2 linked regions of the Homo sapiens genome follow. The protein of the gene in region 2 interacts with the protein of the main gene of each other region in a biochemical or structural test. Each region holds a gene or a part of one and is shown on either strand. Other genes may lie near its edges.

Evidence for each region. Proteins that work in one complex are often made in the same cells at the same time.
Region 1: the proteins of GRM1 (region 2) and EPB41L2 form a complex in vitro, tested with the Homo sapiens proteins (one study listed by BioGRID).

Annotation. Positions count from the first base shown.
Region 1 is NC_000006.12:130,953,798-130,962,867, reverse strand, and holds part of EPB41L2 (band 4.1-like protein 2), read left to right. Parts: intron 1-6,368; 5' UTR 6,369-6,382; coding exon 6,383-6,874; intron 6,875-7,550; coding exon 7,551-7,763; intron 7,764-9,070. UniProt on the Homo sapiens protein: Required for dynein-dynactin complex and NUMA1 recruitment at the mitotic cell cortex during anaphase.
Region 2 is NC_000006.12:146,031,292-146,040,361, reverse strand, and holds part of GRM1 (metabotropic glutamate receptor 1 isoform alpha precursor), read right to left. Parts: intron 1-9,070. UniProt on the Homo sapiens protein: G-protein coupled receptor for glutamate. Ligand binding causes a conformation change that triggers signaling via guanine nucleotide-binding proteins (G proteins) and modulates the activity of down-stream effectors.

The sequences.
Region 1 (9,070 bases), about 15 Mb from region 2:
CCATGATTGCCCTAGACCAATAGAAGCTACCCTTGAGGCCAATCTGGAGCTAGCCTCTATTGAAACACATGTGGAAGGGGGGAAAGTGGAACAAAATTTAGGTTCTATTAAAAAGGAGAAAGAGTGGAAGAAATATATCTGAATGTCACCTGATCCCATCTAGACTTGAACTAGGGAAGATTGTAGTTCATATGTTTTGTATGTGTGGGTTTAATTTAAACCGGATATTAGTTTACATCTTTATAGTAATAGCTCTGTCTAATAGGTCCCTTATCCTTTTAAAAATAAATAAACAAGTGATATAGTGGGTTATAAAGGTAACTAGGGTGAGCAGCATTGGATTACTTGTTCATCCTCCCCATATAGATAATATGAACTAACAAATAGTCCCTTTGGAATGTATTTATACTTACTTGAATATGAAGTATGGTATTTTCTAGACCATCTGACACTTAAGAAACATAAACCTGTGAGGGTAAGGACTTACTTGCACTCTGCTCTAAGTCTGCCTGTTTTTGTTATTCCTTCTTCCTCTCCAGATATTTCTTCTTCCTTGTTCCCCTTCCCACCCCACTTCCTCCTTCCCCTCTGCCCCACCTCTCCTGCCTCTTCCCCTTCTCCTTTTAAATGATGAATATATTTGAGAAGCATCACCTCTTTATTTCCCAAGTAGAGTTAGGTGGCTGCTGAATCATTTCTACATTTGTTTTTTTTCCCTCACGTTTGATGGCATCAAATAGTGCATTATTAAAAGACCTTCTCTTTCAATAGCTATAGGCCCTTCGGGGAGGTGAACATACAAGCACGTGATTGTGGGTATCAGCAGGATGCTCTACATATCCTCTACCCACAAGCAGATGAAAACTAGTTTTATCCGATGTAGAAAATGGCCAGAACTGTCTACACATTGCCAATATGTTTTAAGTTCAATGGTTATTTGTTGCAAAGTTTTGTTGTTTTCTCAAAGCTCAAATGAAAGCCTCCCTCCATCCTCTTGCTACCATTTTTGAAGCTTAGAAATACATACCTTCCCATTTTGTGAATCTTGGATCCTTACAAAATGGGTTGAGCTCTCTTGGTAGAAATTAAAGACTCTCATATTGCTTGTGATCTCAGCAAAGAATGGGAGCTACTCAGCTGGCAGCAGCACCTACCCTGTTCCCTGCTCAGGGGTTTTGTTAACAGTAAGGTCCCAGTTTCCTCAATGTTTTAAGGAAACATCTGAACCCAAGAATTAGCATGAACCCCTTGCTTGAAGTTGTTTGTGTGTTTGTGAGGTTGTGTATCTGCTTTGCTTTGCTTGCTGTAGTATTCTGATTAAGGGCCAATGTTTTAAGTAGCATGATGTTATATGGTTGGCAGTTCAGCCTAGTGATAGAGATAGCACATTAGAATTTACCTCCTTTTTTAAACGTTGGAAAAAAAAGAATGGGTTTATGTAACACAGCTCCTTACCTAACCAGTACTGATCCTCTATTGATGATGGTTTTCTGCTTCATTGCATGTTAAATGATGCATGCTTTTTCTCATGAAGCTGTCACAATGACGAACACTTTTATCAACCCAGATGGAGCATGCCAACATGGTAATTGTGTCAAAACCACATGCTTGTCTAATGGGCGGGCTGTTCACAGCAGTGTTCTTTTTAGTTGATGATAAGTAGAAAGATCATTACTTAATGTATTATATAACTATACTAATGATGGATTTTGGGTAATTATAATTAAATATTAGTCAATGAGCATTGCCAGAGTTTGGGAAACCTTAGTTCCAGTTTTGGCTTGCCCATCTGACTTTACCATCTCAGGCAAATCTCCTGGTCTTTCTGATCCTCAGTTTGGTTGTTGATAAAATAAAGTGAGGATATTAGACTAGATGATTGAACAATACTCATTTAGTAAGTACTTAATAGATACCTATTATGTGCCAGTCTAGATGCTGGGAACATAGCAGTATATAAAAGAGAGATCCCAGCCCTCATGGAGTTTTCATTTTAGTGGGAATGTCAGCATTCCACTACAAGAGTTCTCATTTTCATGGGTGATAGAGTTTAAAGGCTTATCCACATATGAAAGAAACTCAGGGTTATAGGCATGATAATTAGGGTGAGTGGATGTACTGTAATCATGTTTTCTTGATGGTGGTAATTTGTTCAAGAAGCCATTTTATCAACAAAGAAGGTAGTGTTTTGTTTTGAGCTCTGTTGAACTCTTGAAACTGTTTCAAGAATATGTTGAGTAATGATCCAATTAGTCTTTTCCATTGTTTTCTGTCTTGTAACTTCCATTTGGATGGGTGACACTGATCATCACTTTTGAGGCTCTTAACCCTTATGGGTGTTGTGAATACAGTGGTGATTGAGGATGACTTCGTGAGGCTTAACCATATGGTTTTGTCGGTGCTCTTCCTGTCTGTATTTGTACTTTGTCTTCAGTGTCTGTCAACCAGCTCAGTTATGATTACATGGTCAAGCAATAACGTACAAATGGGATTTTCTTTGTTATTTAAATTCATCTATAAATTTCTTACTTTTAAGAGAGAATATTTTGAATAAATCTGAGAATACATTTATGTTATTTCATAGTCATTTTCACTAACTGGCAGGAACCTTCTTTGAGTACTAGGCCAAGGACTCTGTGGTTGAGTAGGTCATTCGTGCATAATGGAGCTGTGATTGCATTATGAAGTGTGTGTGAGGGAAGGTATACACAGCTGTGTGGTTCTCCATTAGTGGCTTTGGATAAGTGACTACTGTTTATTATTTGTAAAACAGGGATAATACATACTTTGTAGAATATTTTGAGAAACAGATTATGGGCACTGTGTCAGACAGTAAACAGTGAGTGGAAACCCTTATGATTAAAATATAAACAACTATTAATGCTTTTAACATAATAGTGGAAACTCAAGTTTTATATTTCACTGCTTCTAAAATATTTTGGCCAAAAATCAGCCTTAGTTGATTGGTTCCCAGACTATTTCTCACAGCCAAAGTAATTAGAGAGCTGCCAATTTATCTTGGTTAGCTTAGACAAGTATGGGGCATTTTGGTTTTAATTTTACCAGGACATTTATTCAGCTCTCAGAATGTAATTAGAGAGCATATACTAGAAATACACTTTGGTTATTTCATGATTAAAGTAAATAATATTGTCCACTTAAATAGTACATGGGAAATGGTATGTTAAAGAAGGAAAAAAGGTTTTCTGTGCAATATGGAGCCAGTTTACCTGTCCTCGGGTCTTGCTGGAAGACATACTTTTGAATTTCAGATGCCTGAGAATGAGAAGCAGCAAAGAATATGTGGGTATAATAGTTAACTATTCCCTCTTACGTAGCATTGCTGTCAGGGATATTACTGTCTCCTGATCTCCCTGCCTCACTACATATTTCTTCTGGCCCTCATGCCTTTTCTTCTGCCTCACCTTATATGTTGATGGTGATAAGAGCTCTTTTAAGGATCCTCTCAGTTTAAGCTACCCTTTTTCTCTAGGTGATGTATCCCCATGTGATGACAACATCCAAACCCTATCTCTAGTGTGTATCTAGTCTCCAATCAAAACCTGTGTGTCTTGGGGTCATCTAGACATCTCCACAACCTCTCAATCACAATGAATTCAAAATTGAATTATATGTGTCAGCCAGACCCACTTTTACAGGTGTTCCCCATTTCCATGAATGGTTCTACCATCACCCTAGTCTTCCTTGACCTGGGCCTTTTCCTTAGCTCTTTCCTCTCTTTGACTTTCTATATTCAGCCCGGACATCAAGTCATATCCACTCTACCTCTTTACCATTAGATTAATTTCTTGTTCTTTACCCTACTGTTTCTGCTGTAGTATATATAGACCATCGTCTTCTCAGGTCTGGATCAACCAGAGATCAGATCAACCCAATCTCCTGGATGTCTTTCTGCTTCAGTCTTTTCTTTCATCCTGTGCTTTACAGCCAGGTTGCGCTAAGTGAAATGAGAATCTTATTACATTTCTCCTCTACTTCAAGTACTTATGTAACTTCTCATTGCTTTTCAAATAACCCCCACATTGCCTTTAAAATAACACAAAATCTTTTATGTTTTGGCTTCTGCCTTCCTTTCTTACTTCATTATTACCAGTTCAGCTTCCGCCTGTCCTGTCTTCACTCATAAGCCCCCACTTCACTTGTACAGTGGATTATTGTTCTGTGCCTGTGGTTTCCTTTTTTATGAGGAATGTTCTCATGTTTCCACACAACTCCCTATGCCTGACACATACCTTCCATTCTGGCTATTTTGTCTGAATAATGAGTACCCATTTAAAAAATAAACTCAAATGTCAACTTCTGCAGAAACGCCTGCCTGGTGACCCTCTTCTTCTCCTAACCTGGCTTAAGTCCTTTGCTTTTTTTTTTTTTTTTTTTTGTTGTTGTTGTTGTTTTGAGACAGGGTCTTGTTTTGTCGCCTAGACTGGAGTGCAGTGACACAATCTCGGCTCACTGCAACCTCTGCCTCCTGAGTTCAAGCTATTCTCTTGCCTCAGCCTTCCGAGTAGCTGGGATTACAGAGACGTGCCACCACGCTCAGCTAAGTTTTGTATTTTTAGTAGAGATGGGGTTTCGCCATGTTGGCCAGGATGGTCTCGAACTCCTGACCTCAAGTGGTCCACCCTCCTCGACCTCCCAAAGTGCTGGGATTACAGGCATGAGCCACTGCACCTGGCCTAGTCCTGTGTTTTTTGTGCAACATGCTATTGACTTAATGTATGCTTATTTGTAGCCCTCACTCCCTTAGCTCCTCAAAGGTTGTCTTTATTCATGTGCCCATGAACTTACCACATCGTAGAAGCCATTATATAGGTGAATTGACTTGACTGTTTTTGTGGTTGCATATTAGATGTGAAAAACATTTTTAAGTTATTTTTATTGAGAAAATTTACATATCACAAAATTCACCCTTTTAAAGTATACAATCCAGTGGTTTTGGATATATTCGTAAGGTTGCCAGGGGGCGACGGGGAATGCAGAGTGACTACTAATGGGCACAGGATTTCTTTTTGGAGTGATGAAAATGCTCTAGAATTAGTGGTGGTGGTTGTACCACTTTGTGAGTATACTCAAAATCACTAACTGTATACTTTAAGAGGGTGAAATTTATGGTACATGAATTATATCTTAATAAAGCTTTAAAACAAGTGTACTTTTTTTTTTGACTTATTCAAGTTTGTACCACTTAAAAAGTTAACACAATTTTTTTTTTTTTTAAGAGATGGGGTCTCACTCTGTTTCTCAGGCTGGCCTCAGACTCCTGGGCTCAAGCATGTTTCTTGTCTCAGACTCCCAAGTAGCTGTGACTACAGGAATAACCATGTCCGTCTCTTAAGTTTTTACCACCTTTGAAGATAGCTGGGACACTACTCGTTGTCCAGGGTGCCAGGACTCTGGGCACTTATTATTGGCAAGGGAGGGGAGAGCGAATGTGATCGGCTATCTCCGCAGGCCCCGCCTGTTGTTCTTTATGTCAGCGTGCTGTAACACTTTAAAAGTCCCTCTTTGCTTATGTAAAATTTAGTTATTTTCAGAATTTATTTAAATTTTGTTCTAATTAGTTATGATAAGAACAATCGTCAGATGCATTTTTTCCACCTCATAATGTCCTCATTTGGTTTGGATTATGGCCCTTAAATATTTTTCTTATATATAGAAAGAAAAGTGTGATTATGGTTGGGTGGGATGGAGGTTCGGAGTTTTGATTAGAATTTGAGTACCTTTTCCAAGATTAACTTTTGCATTGGAACAGTGATGGTGAATTACGGGATTTAATATTGGAACACAGAATAATACATTTTTGTTATTTTACCTTCTTGGCTGTTACACACCATACACTTAAAACTGTTTTTTCTAATACCTAACATTTTGATAGATTTTGGGTTTAATGTATGAAATTGTAGTGAAATGTGTCTCATTGCTTTCTAGCACTGTTGATAACATCTTCCTGTTACAGAATAAAGAATACCAAGTACAGATAAAAGTAATTTTTCTTAAAAAACTTGGATTTTAGATATCAATTATTGTTTATAACAAGTTGAAACCAAATAAAAGTAATCCCTGTTTCTTGAGTTCTTGATGATTTTAAGTTCTAGCTATATGGAACTCAGAACACACAGAGTTCTATTGTGATGCTAGTTTTGGGTCTGTGATGCTGATAGAGAATTCTAAAAGTTCGAGCAACAGTCTCCATTTTGTCTTGTGCTTTTGAATCTTCTTTCTTGATGTGCTTTCTCCCTGTCATCTGTTACTCTTCTTCTCATCTTTCCTTACCATGCCCCTCGCAACCAAACTAAATTTGAGAGAACTTACAAAATGACATTTTATGATTTTTGTTTTGATTACAGCATAAGCTGTGGCCATGACTACTGAAGTAGGCTCTGTGTCTGAAGTGAAGAAGGACTCTAGCCAGTTAGGAACAGATGCAACCAAGGAAAAACCTAAAGAAGTAGCAGAAAATCAGCAGAATCAGTCTTCCGATCCAGAGGAGGAAAAAGGTTCCCAGCCACCTCCTGCAGCTGAAAGCCAAAGTAGTCTACGCCGCCAGAAGAGAGAGAAGGAAACATCGGAGAGCAGGGGTATTTCTCGGTTCATACCGCCATGGCTTAAGAAGCAAAAGTCATATACCTTAGTAGTGGCCAAAGATGGAGGAGATAAAAAAGAGCCTACCCAAGCTGTTGTTGAAGAACAGGTCTTAGATAAAGAGGAACCCCTTCCAGAAGAACAGAGACAGGCTAAGGGTGATGCTGAAGAAATGGCTCAGAAGAAACAAGAGATTAAAGTTGAAGTCAAGGAAGAAAAACCCTCAGTGAGCAAGGAAGAAAAACCCTCAGTGAGCAAAGTGGAGATGCAGGTATGTTTGGGAATAATTGCCTGGAAATGAAAACCTGATAGCGTAACCACATAATAAAAAGGGTTTGTTTGTTTTGGATCATTTCCAGATTTCTTGTACTGAGATACTGCTTTAGCTTAATGTATACGGAATGGGTCTTAGATTGGTCTACCATAGCCTTTCCCTGTTACTCCTTGAAAAAAAAGTCCCCTATATATACCAATTACTAAAAAATTCATGTCTGTAACCTGTTTAGGTGAGGTAGATACTCCGAGCCCTGCCATCTCTTTTTTAAACAGAATGCTCTTTTATGCCTCTTTAAGTTTTCACTGGACAGTAAGTAGTAGATTTGTGTGTGCGCATTTTAGTTGCCTAACAAAGCCTAGGTTTTGCCATGGTATAAGATTTTAATTGGAAATGTTATTATTTGAGATGATACTTAAATTGTAGTTGCTGGGATGTAGTTTCTTTGATTCATTTAATGCCAAATAACCAACTTGGCAAAATGAGAATTTTGGCCATGAAAAGAGGATGAGGGGAAATATCCTTTCTATTGGAATTTTCAAGTCTTTAAAAATCTGAAAGTTACAGTGTTTAAAGTAACGATCCTAATTCTTATGAAAGATTTTCCTTTTAGTATGTTGTCATCTGCAAGGTGGTTGACTATAGTATGAATTTATTTTTTTTTCCTCAACAGCCTACTGAATTAGTAAGTAAGGAGAGAGAAGAGAAGGTAAAAGAAACACAGGAAGACAAATTAGAAGGAGGAGCAGCAAAAAGGGAGACCAAGGAAGTGCAGACCAATGAGCTGAAAGCAGAGAAGGCATCTCAAAAAGTCACCAAGAAGACCAAAACTGTCCAGTGTAAAGTGACCCTCTTAGATGGCACCGAATACAGCTGTGACCTGGAGGTGAGATAGGGAGCTGAGTGAGAGCTAGCTTGATATGTGGATTGTGGCATGGCATGATGAATAGATTTTTGTGTTTTATTAAGTTCCTGTAAGCCAGTTGATTACAGTTTTGCACTAAAAAAAATACATTGAAGTGGGTCATCATTTCTGTCACAAATATTTCATGACCTTGGGATAAGCAGGGATGCTATTCTGCCAGTCTGCACTAGCCGTGTTTACTGGTTCGTGTGTTAATGACTGGGTGTTAAATATTTGGAATATTGCTTTTGGCTAGAAGATGTTTTTCTTGAGGAAAAATGATAGCACTAGGCTGACATTTCAGAATAAAGAAGTTTCAGCAGTAAACTTAGCCCCAAGTGTTTTATCCTGAGACAGATACTGGCTTAACATCTAATTTATTTACTTTCATTTAATTAAAAAACATCTATGATTTGCAAAACATACAGTTCATTAGCGCTGGTGCTGACAGAAGTCACTTTAATCTTTTAACGCATCTAGTACCTTATAATTTTATGTCAATCAGAAGAGTTTGTTGCTTTCCACAAATTATTTACGTAACGTATACTAATAGCTAATGTTTGCTGAAGAACTGTGTGAAGTGCTTTGAATGGATTATCTTGTTTAATGGATTATCTTGTTTTATTGATTAAGAATCAATAAAGGTAGATATTATCATTGCTATTTTCAGTGTTACATGTTACAACGGGGAACTTAGGGCTTAGAGAAGTTAAATTCCTTGCCCAAAGTTTTAGGGCTGGGTGCGGTGGCTCAAGCCTGTAATCCCAGCACTTTGGGAGGCCAAGGCGGGCGGATCACGAGGTCAGGAGATCCAGACCATCCTGGCTAACATGGTGAAACCCTGTCTCTACTAAAAATACAAAAAAATTAGCCAGGCGTAGTGGCGGGCGCCAGTATTCCCAGCTACTGGGGAGGCTGAGGCAGGAGAATGGCGTGAACCCGGGAGGCGGAGCTTGTGGTGAGCTGAGATTGCGCCACTGCACTCCAGCCTGGGCGACAGAGCGAGACTCCGTCTCAAAAAAAAAAAAAAAAAAAAAAAAAAAAAAGAAAGAAAAGGACTAGCAAAAGAGGATTAAAAATCCTTGTCTTAGTTGTCTTAGTTTTTGCTGTTGTAACAAAATACCGTCAACTGGGTAATTTAAAAACAACATGAATTTATTGCCCACAGCTCTGGAGGCTAGGAAGTCCCAGATCAAGGCACCAGAAAATTTGGTGTCTGGTGAGGGGCTTGATCTCTGCTTCCAGGATGGCCCCTCCTTTCTGGATCTTCACATGGTGGAAAGGCCAAG
Region 2 (9,070 bases):
ATTCACAGGTAAAAGTATAAAAATTCAGAACATTCTAACACTGTTGTTGTGGCATATAAATTACACAGTCTCATGTATCGCTACTAGTACAGAACACTGTTTCTATAGTTCTTCCTCTTTTACCCATCAGCTTTCTTTGTCACTGTTCTATTATCAAAACTGTCTCCTCCATTGGCTTTCATAACATGAGGTTCTTCCTGTTTCTTTTTCTACTTTTTAAACTGTCCTTTTTCCCTTTTCTGTAGACTCTTTCTCATTTCACATGCCTTAAAGTACTGCCCTTGACCATCTTTTTGTGTTTTATATCTTACCCCCTTGGCAATCCCATCAATTTTCATGGTTTTAACCAGATATTTTCTGACAAATTTCAAATATAACTCTCTTTCCAGATCGGTGGCCTATGGGATCCCTTGACTTTATTGTCCAATGGATACCACAAACTCAAACAGCCTAAACTAATTTTTTCCCAGTCTGCGATTTCTCTTTATTCCCTATTTATTCCTACAAAATAGACCTGCGGCTTATTCTAGACTTCTCTTTTTCCTTGATTCTCATAACCAATCATTCACTAAACACTAACCTCCCTGCTACATAGAAAGTCAAATTCATTCTCCTCTATCCTTTTCCATTGACACTTTCTTTAGTAAAACTCTAATCATCTCTTGACAAAATTAATTAATTGAACTGGCCTTTCCTTCTCCACTTCCCTCAACCATCAATGGCCTTCAGATTTGTCTCCTAATTTCCAATTTGACTCCTTTTCTTAATCTGTCTTCTCCAAAGCTTTCCAGATGCCCTTTCCAAAATATAATCTGATCTTGATTTCTTCCTGCATAAAATTCTTCACTGGCTCACCATGTTTCCAAGAGTCTAATTTTCTTGGCTTGATAAGTATGTCCCATCATGACCTAGGCTCTTTCTCTCTTTTCAGTTTGGTCTTCCCCACTCATTTTCCCAGGACATATACTTTAGAGTTAATGATATTCTTAGAGGTCCCTGAGCATATTTTGCTTTCTATGTCAGTGCTTTTACTGAATTTACTCCTTTGTTTCCTCGGATATAGTGAACTTCAGATGTCACCTTTTCTGGGGACCTTCTATGAGCTTTCCCTCACTGCTTCCCTGGACCAGAGGGAGCTAATCACAGTTCTCTCTGTTGTCTCTCTACCTCATGCCTACTCCTATGGTTGCACTTAGCAAAACTGAATAGTAATCACCATGTGGTGAACTTCTTAAAAGGAAGACTATAATTCCACTATCTCTACTCCTCAATGACTATAGCATTGGTCAAACCAAAGAATGTGCTACAAAACATAAAAATTGAGATAGGAATCTGGACATGACTTCTTCTCTGCCAGTAGAGTAGTACCTGTTAACCAAAACCTGAAAATAACAAATAATGTATTTATTTATCGAAAAAAAAGGATATTGAATTTCTTTATTATAAGCTGTTTCCACTATTTCAATATCCTGATATAACCTTTTAAAATCTTTCATAAAGTTTTTTTCTCTTGAACATACTATCAGCAATTTGTTTATTGATTTTTTTGTTCTACCTTTTATAACAAACAAATTATAAAATGTGTTATAGCACCACAGAGAACAGAGGAAACTGTCTCTGATTGTTTAACAATAGCTGTGGAATATGCTGTCCAATCAAAAGATTTGCATTGAGGGCCACATGCTGTGAGTGCAATTTTTATAAAGGGAGAGAATGAGAAGTTGAATATGCGCCACTCAGTGTTAGTAAATCAGCATTTTCCCTCTTTATTTTCACATCTCCACCACAGAACTTCCCTGTATTTACTTCACACAGGCTCATCTAAGCTAAGGGCATCTTCCTAATTAAGGTTAGAATAGCATGACAACAATAATGACATCTTACATCTATTACATCTACCTAGCCCTATATGGAGCACTGTTGCATCTTATCTGTATAATAAACTTAGGGGACTGTTTTCTGTATACTTCACCCTGATAGCTCTCTAAGCATGCCTAATTCTATTAATCCCTTGAGTCAATCCTATTCCAGATCTCTGGATTTCAACTCTAGCCACCCTTCTCTAATTTTCTCATCCTTATCCACTCCATACCACTTCTAGTTACTTGTGGTAGAGATGGTGTCACAGAGATGTCTGACCATGTGTCATCTCCCACTGTTAACCACAACCCTCATAGAGAAGGCATCCTTTCTTCTTTCATTTTAACAAGGTGTTTAATTCTGGTCTTATTTTACATTTCTGCCCTGAAGGAGCTGGAGAAAAAAAAATGGTTAATTCATAATCTCCTGAAATAGAGCTTCATGTGGAGCAGTCACTCTACATTGAAAGTTTATTTTCTCTGCGAAAGGACTTTTATTACAAGATGATAACAAGCACAAATATGGAGGTAGAGTTGCTCAGATGCAGAAGGGAAACCAGATCAGCTGAGAAAATGGCTTTATTCAGACCTTCCAGAGAAATGTGGAGAGCAGGTGAGGTGGGAGCAAAAGAAGTTGAAGAAAAGGAGAGGCTTCTATTTTTCAGTGACTTTCTCATGTTTAAAAATTTATAAATAAAATAGTTATTGGCAAGGCCAGGGTACCAGATTGTGGTCAGGGTAAGTGGGTTGCTAAAGAGAAGGCAAGGAACACAGAGCTGAGATCAATGAGCTATGAGGATAGGTATTGGTGGGACAAACACATGAATGTTGGAGTCATCCAAAACTAAGGTAAGAGCTGACATTAAGAGGAAGACTAACAGCAGAGTGAGTTTTCAGAAGAGGAATCTCCTAGAAGCTGCTAAATGACAGCAGCAAAGTTGGAAAGACACAGTTGAGCTAAATAGTATGGACCTCACATGAGAGGCGTGCATGAGGGTTAAAAAGGAAAGAAAGAAAGAAAGAAAACTTTGGCTTGAGAAAGTATCTAAAACAAAGCTAAATTAGTCCTAGCTTTGCTGCTGATGAATTTTATGATCTTGAGCAAGTCATTTTGTTTTATTTTTCTGGGCTTTTGTTTTCTCATTTGTAACAAGAAAGTTTCCTAAAGTCTATAGTAGATGCTACACCTTTATCTTAATCATGAATTTCATTTTAATCTTATATTACTAGGTTTAGGGTCGAAAATCTGTATCCAATTAACTGGCTTCTTGGACTTGCTTAATATTCATCAGCTGAGAAGAAGTCATCGCTTTGGTGGCAGTTTAAGAAAAACAACTGAAATGTATTTATGGGTACCATCTTCTTGTTCTTTGAAAAGCTGCTGTGAGGAATATAACATGGTAGTGATTATAATTCCCATTTTACAAATGAAACTGAGATGTGCATGCATACAGTATTTCCCATATGTTTTGTGCATTTTTCAAAACAGTAATTAAACATTTTCTTTTTAACCCATGAGCCTATAACTGTCTATATATTTACATGTCTCTTCCAACAAATATTAGTAGTAATAATAGTTATTATTATTGATTTTTATTACTTTATGTGTTACTAGCACCAAGAAAAATATGTGATGCATAATAGTCACGTGTTTATTTATAAATGTCTTTATTAGAAGGCAAATTAGTTACTAGGTAATCAAAGAATTTCTGCCTATCAAAATCCTGTGCTTCTACTACAAATTAAGGCTTTTACCTGGATATTTAGATAATTGCCTTGAATATTTAATTTGTTGGCTATGAAATAAATAAAATAGATAATCCTAAAATTGATAATTGGAGATTTCTGAGAAGCAATTCTCTTCATAAAAACATTAATGTTCTATTTGGTACTACAATGCCTTAAGTTTAAGAGAGTAAAGCTTTCTGGAATACAGAAGGTAATTAAAATTATAATTTCTCATGTAAGTTAAGATTTTAAATGTTGTAGACATTCATAGAGAACAATTAAACAGGAAAAAGTAGCAAATATTTCTATATAATTTTAGAATCTAATGATAACTCTCTGTTGCATAAGACAGTGACATTTTGACAAGGCTTTATGCCTTGTCTTGACTCTGGTTTTCAACTACAGCTTCTCTGAAAATTGACAACTTTCTCCTACTGACATGCTGTTTCCAACATATATCAGAACAGCATGTGCCATGAGTTTTTTTAGTGGTTGTAGGTGTTCACCAAACTATTCTTTTCTGGATGTGGTTCCCCAGCCCTCTGTGTTCTTAAAAAAGTGTATGCCGAAAACACGACTTTTGATAAGTCTCTTTGTGAACCCATCACTCCAGTCACTGCCCAGTTACTGAAAATCCACAAAGCAGTTATTGTATATTAGCTCCCTATATCATAAGGGCAAAAATTTTAATACTTGTAGAAGGATGGCTACTGCCAAGCCACACGGTAGAAACATAAAATGGAAGCTGCCATCACCACCTACCCTATGAAGGACAGCTTCTTATAAAATTTGCAGCAAGATAAACGTAGTCACAGGGTGATTGTGTGGCAAAGGAATCACAAAGAGTTCAAGTTTACTCAAAATAATGAAAGTGTCATTTTTTTCGTCTTTGGATTTCACTCTAATTCTATGCACATAATAGCTGTTTGCTAAATACTGATTAATGACTTTAAAAATGAGTTTAATAAATCCAGCCAAGATATAAAAGAAAAAATAAAGATAAAAATTTTTAAGTATGGCAATTTGTGGCCATTTTGAGTAATAATAAATGGCCTTATATTTTTTTAACAGGCTCCAAGATTACCACCATATTCCAGCGCAAGGTAAAAATTTATGTTCACGATAACTTGGTATATTCAAGGAAAATGTCCATTAAATTGAGCACTGTCTTTAAAAGAAGTTAGGGGACCTTACAGTAGTGTTTGCAAAGATCACCTCATAAAATGTTTTAAATGTAAATGTTGGTGTTTAAAGAGACCAACTCTCAAGTATAAAGTAGACAGCTAGAGAATCAAGGTTATGGATAAACAAGGTTTTACTTGGATATGAACACTTGTTAAAAAATTACAAATAAAGTATCTCGTAACAATATCTGGCTTTTCTTTCGTCCACTCACCAACTTTTGCCAATAATATATGTTCTCTTGGCCAAAGTTCACATGTCTAACTGTGCTTGGATGTATCTTTCTTGAAACCAAAACTCTTTGTCACATGCTTCAAGATTCTCCATTACTTGTCCTTCATGTCTATAAAGACTGATGTAATCACAGAATATTAGGACTTACTTCTGTTTTTATTATTAGTTCTTACCCCAGACTCTTTCCTCCAGATAAGCAAATCTGTTTTTTTCACACCATTACAGTACTTTCAATACTGTCTCTTTTACAAATGCTATGTTTCCAAACAAAACTCTAACCAAAATTCCCTTTTCTCCAGGTTTTCTCTAGATAATTGCACCACTAATACATTCTTTCAGTTCCCTACAATTGAATAAACTCATGTTTATAAATGTCTATACTGTGATTGCTTTTACTTACTTTACATGTATTTAAACTGCACTCCCCTTAAAGTAAAAACTACTTAGTAACCGAAATTAAGTCTTCAAAATTGTTATTTAAAGTTTTTATGCAGTAAATCTTTACTTAAAGTCATCTGTTGTGATGACTTTTCATTTAAACTACATATAGCCATTTATACATTTGCAAGGTAGTATAGTAAGAGGAGGAAAAGCACTGTATAGAAGAAATTCATAATAGGCTGAGTGAACACCAGAATTAGCCAGGTAGTTTGCTCGTGAAAGGGTTTGAGACTTTACTTTCGACCCTTATCTTATTCAGGTTTTAACGTATATGGTTAAATCCTGGAGACACAAAGCTGGAATACTAAGATAAATTAAACAATCAAAATCCCAGAACTTACTGATGTTAGAAAGGCAGATTGAAGCTAATAATTTTACATTTAAAGGGAAAAAATTCAAGTCCTCCTCTTGAATCTAATGGTAACAGTAACAAAATTAATAACTGTTCAAGCATAAAAGGAAGGAGATATGGATTAATAGCAGCACTTCTGAAAAGACCTTGGGATGTTAATTGATGTAAGATCTACTCTAGTCAGCTATGATGGTAAGGGAAGTAAAAAATGAAATGCATGAGTGAAGGAACTGGAGAGCTACACTACAAAAGAGAGATTATTCATTGATGATAAATGTCACATGGAAAAGAAGCTTGAATGTTTTGGATGACTCCTAGTCTTCAATGAAGGATTGGTGGAAACTTCAAGAAATCTGTTTTAGGTCATTACATAGAAGAACTGACTAAAAGTCAGGTGAAATTCTGCTCTCAATTTAACTCCGATATACTCCTACTCTAATTAGAAACCCTAATCACAATTAGAAAGCTTTGAGCGTGGGCAAGCACGTAATGTGATGTTCTAAGCATCTTTTATTAGTTGGCCTGAATAACCTTTCAAAACACTCCTATTTCTTACTATATGATAAAATGAGCAATGTATTAAGATAATTTCCTTTGAAGTAGGTTGCAATCAAGACAAGAAAGATATATAGAAAGTTACTGGTACATAGATAGGAAATATGATATTTAGTAGATATAAAATTATTACAGGTAATTGCATTAATCAAAGTATGTATTTATGACTTAGGAGGACTTTTTTCTGATGTCATTAGACTTTTTAATTGTTTTATATCAAATAAAAAAGTACTTAAAAAGGAAAAAATCAGATTTTGGAAAGAAGCTCAAAAAGGCCAATTTTATATAAAATGTAAGCAAATGTCAAAAAAATGTCACACCAAGATCAAAATCTAACTGGAAAGAAAAGTTTACCTTAAAGTGGATATTTTAATAAGGGAAGCAGCATCACTAAATTCATTATTATATCAATACTTATCTAAGTAACTGAGACAAAATACTAGAAGAAAGGCTTAAGATAAATAAATAAATACATAAAAGTAATGAATGAAAATTTATCCACTCAAAAAAAATTCTTGTAGCTACATACTCAAAGAACATTTTTATTGGACTTGTTCAATGCTTTGAATTTTATTAACTACAGTTATTTTTAAGTACTGTTTTCAAAAATCATTTGAAATAATAAATTTGTTTTTTTGACGGGGAATCTGTATTTTATCAGAAGAACAAAATATAGTGTCCTTGGCTGAGATATTCTTATCAGTGGTAGGCTATTTCTCTACTATATACTTAGCATATTTAAAGACTCACATTCCAGGTAGGCAGCTTGCTCCAAAGTGCATTCAAACTTTATTTGTGGATAAGGCTCCATTACTCCAATATCCTGCCTCCCCCTTGACAGGCTCATCTTAACATTTGCCTCCAGAGCTAATCATGAACAATTTCTGGAGAGTCTATTGCATTGCAGGTAACTTTATGTGTACTGATTTTCTTTCATTTTATGTAAATTGATAATTGTCATGTATCAAGTGTGGTACAAATAATATGATATAAGATTGAAAAGAATGTAAGAGAATATAAAAACTAAATTGTAACTGGTTAAAACACAAAACAAAACAGAAAATATCTGCAAGTTTAGCTTCAATATAAAAAAAAGTAATATAAAAACAACTGTACCATTCAAAAACAATATGATTTCAAGATAATCTCACAATTAACTACAGAAATGAAGGTACACTAGTCCAGTCACTTAGTGCTTTTGGTATTAACTATTCTTGGTTAACTTCTAATACAAGAAACGATGATAATGAATTGACTAGGGAATGGCTGATTTGGAAAGGAGAGATGAAGGTCACGAGAGGCCCCAGAATTTCTAAGCCCTAAGTTGCCAATATCCAGACAAACTGGCTTCCTTGCTGAATAGTGCTCAGACGACAGAGACAACCCTGATATGTGGTCTTCTCTGCTATTTGACAGGGAACTGTCACCAATAAGCGACCCCATCAGTCTGAAAGCAGTAAAATTACTAAATGATCCAAGGAAGTGCCTGTAGGCCAGTACACTATGGGGCCCTGAAAAGCAGGAGGGCAAAACCTCAGGAAAAATGAATCTTCAGTGGGACCTTACACAAAATTCCTTTCCAGATAGAAGGAAAGAAATGCAATTTAGTTTTTACAGATGTTACGTTTAATAAGAGAAGTAACTAATTCCCTTTGAGAAGAAACAAGGTATTATATATGAATGGCAAGGTGAATGGTGTAACTGCTTGGTAATAAAATAAACCCCACATATTTCTATGATGCTGTTCTGTGAACACAATGTAGTCTGGAATCAATTACTATAATAGTACGGAGACATTGTCTTTGCCATACAACACCAATCAGAAGGCAGAAAGGAAACATAGTAATCCAAACTAACACATGGGCAAAATTATAATATTAGTCCTTTCGCAGCAAAATTAGTGAAAACATGTTCAATTCATTTTCCAAAAACATAATTCTACTCCTCAGAAAGCAACCCACTATTAGCCACCTCTCACCAAATAAAACAATCTTATAATGAAATATGGAAAATAAAACCACTGTTTAAAAATAATGAAGCATTACTTCTTCCTGAAGAAAGAATTTATACTTCCAATATTAATAATCAATTATCTAGCTCAATGGGGGAAATATTATTAAATATTTAAATAAATCACATTCAATCTAGATTTTGCCATTCTCTTTGCCATCATCTTTGGATCTATCCAATGATGATATTTAACACATTTTAACTTGCTCTTTCAGGATGTTTCATTTAAGCAAGCACTAAAGAAACTATGCTAAACATTAACATGTAGTAAAGTTAAATATTAAAATATAAGGAATTAATACTTTGAGTCTTAAAAAAGTAATGAATTTTTGTTCAAAAAGAGATACGCAGTTCATGATTAAAAATCAAGCTTCAGAAGCATAAGTCAGTTATTATAAAGTTATAATATCACAGCAGATAGTTTTTTCCAAAAGCAAAATCTGAAATTATAATGTGTAATCCTATATCATTTATGTTTGTTCTGAAAATTCTGTTCCCTTTATAAAGTATATGTTTTCAATAATGATAACCATATAATCACTTCACTATGGATGCTGTCAATTTCTATAATCAGACCTCACGCCAGTAACTGAATATTATGGAAATATTAAAAAAACATGGAGCCATGCCTATGGCTTCTTGAAAGTCATTTGAGTTGAAGAAATATGAATACAGAAATACCAGCAAGATTGTCTTCTTCTGCCAGCTT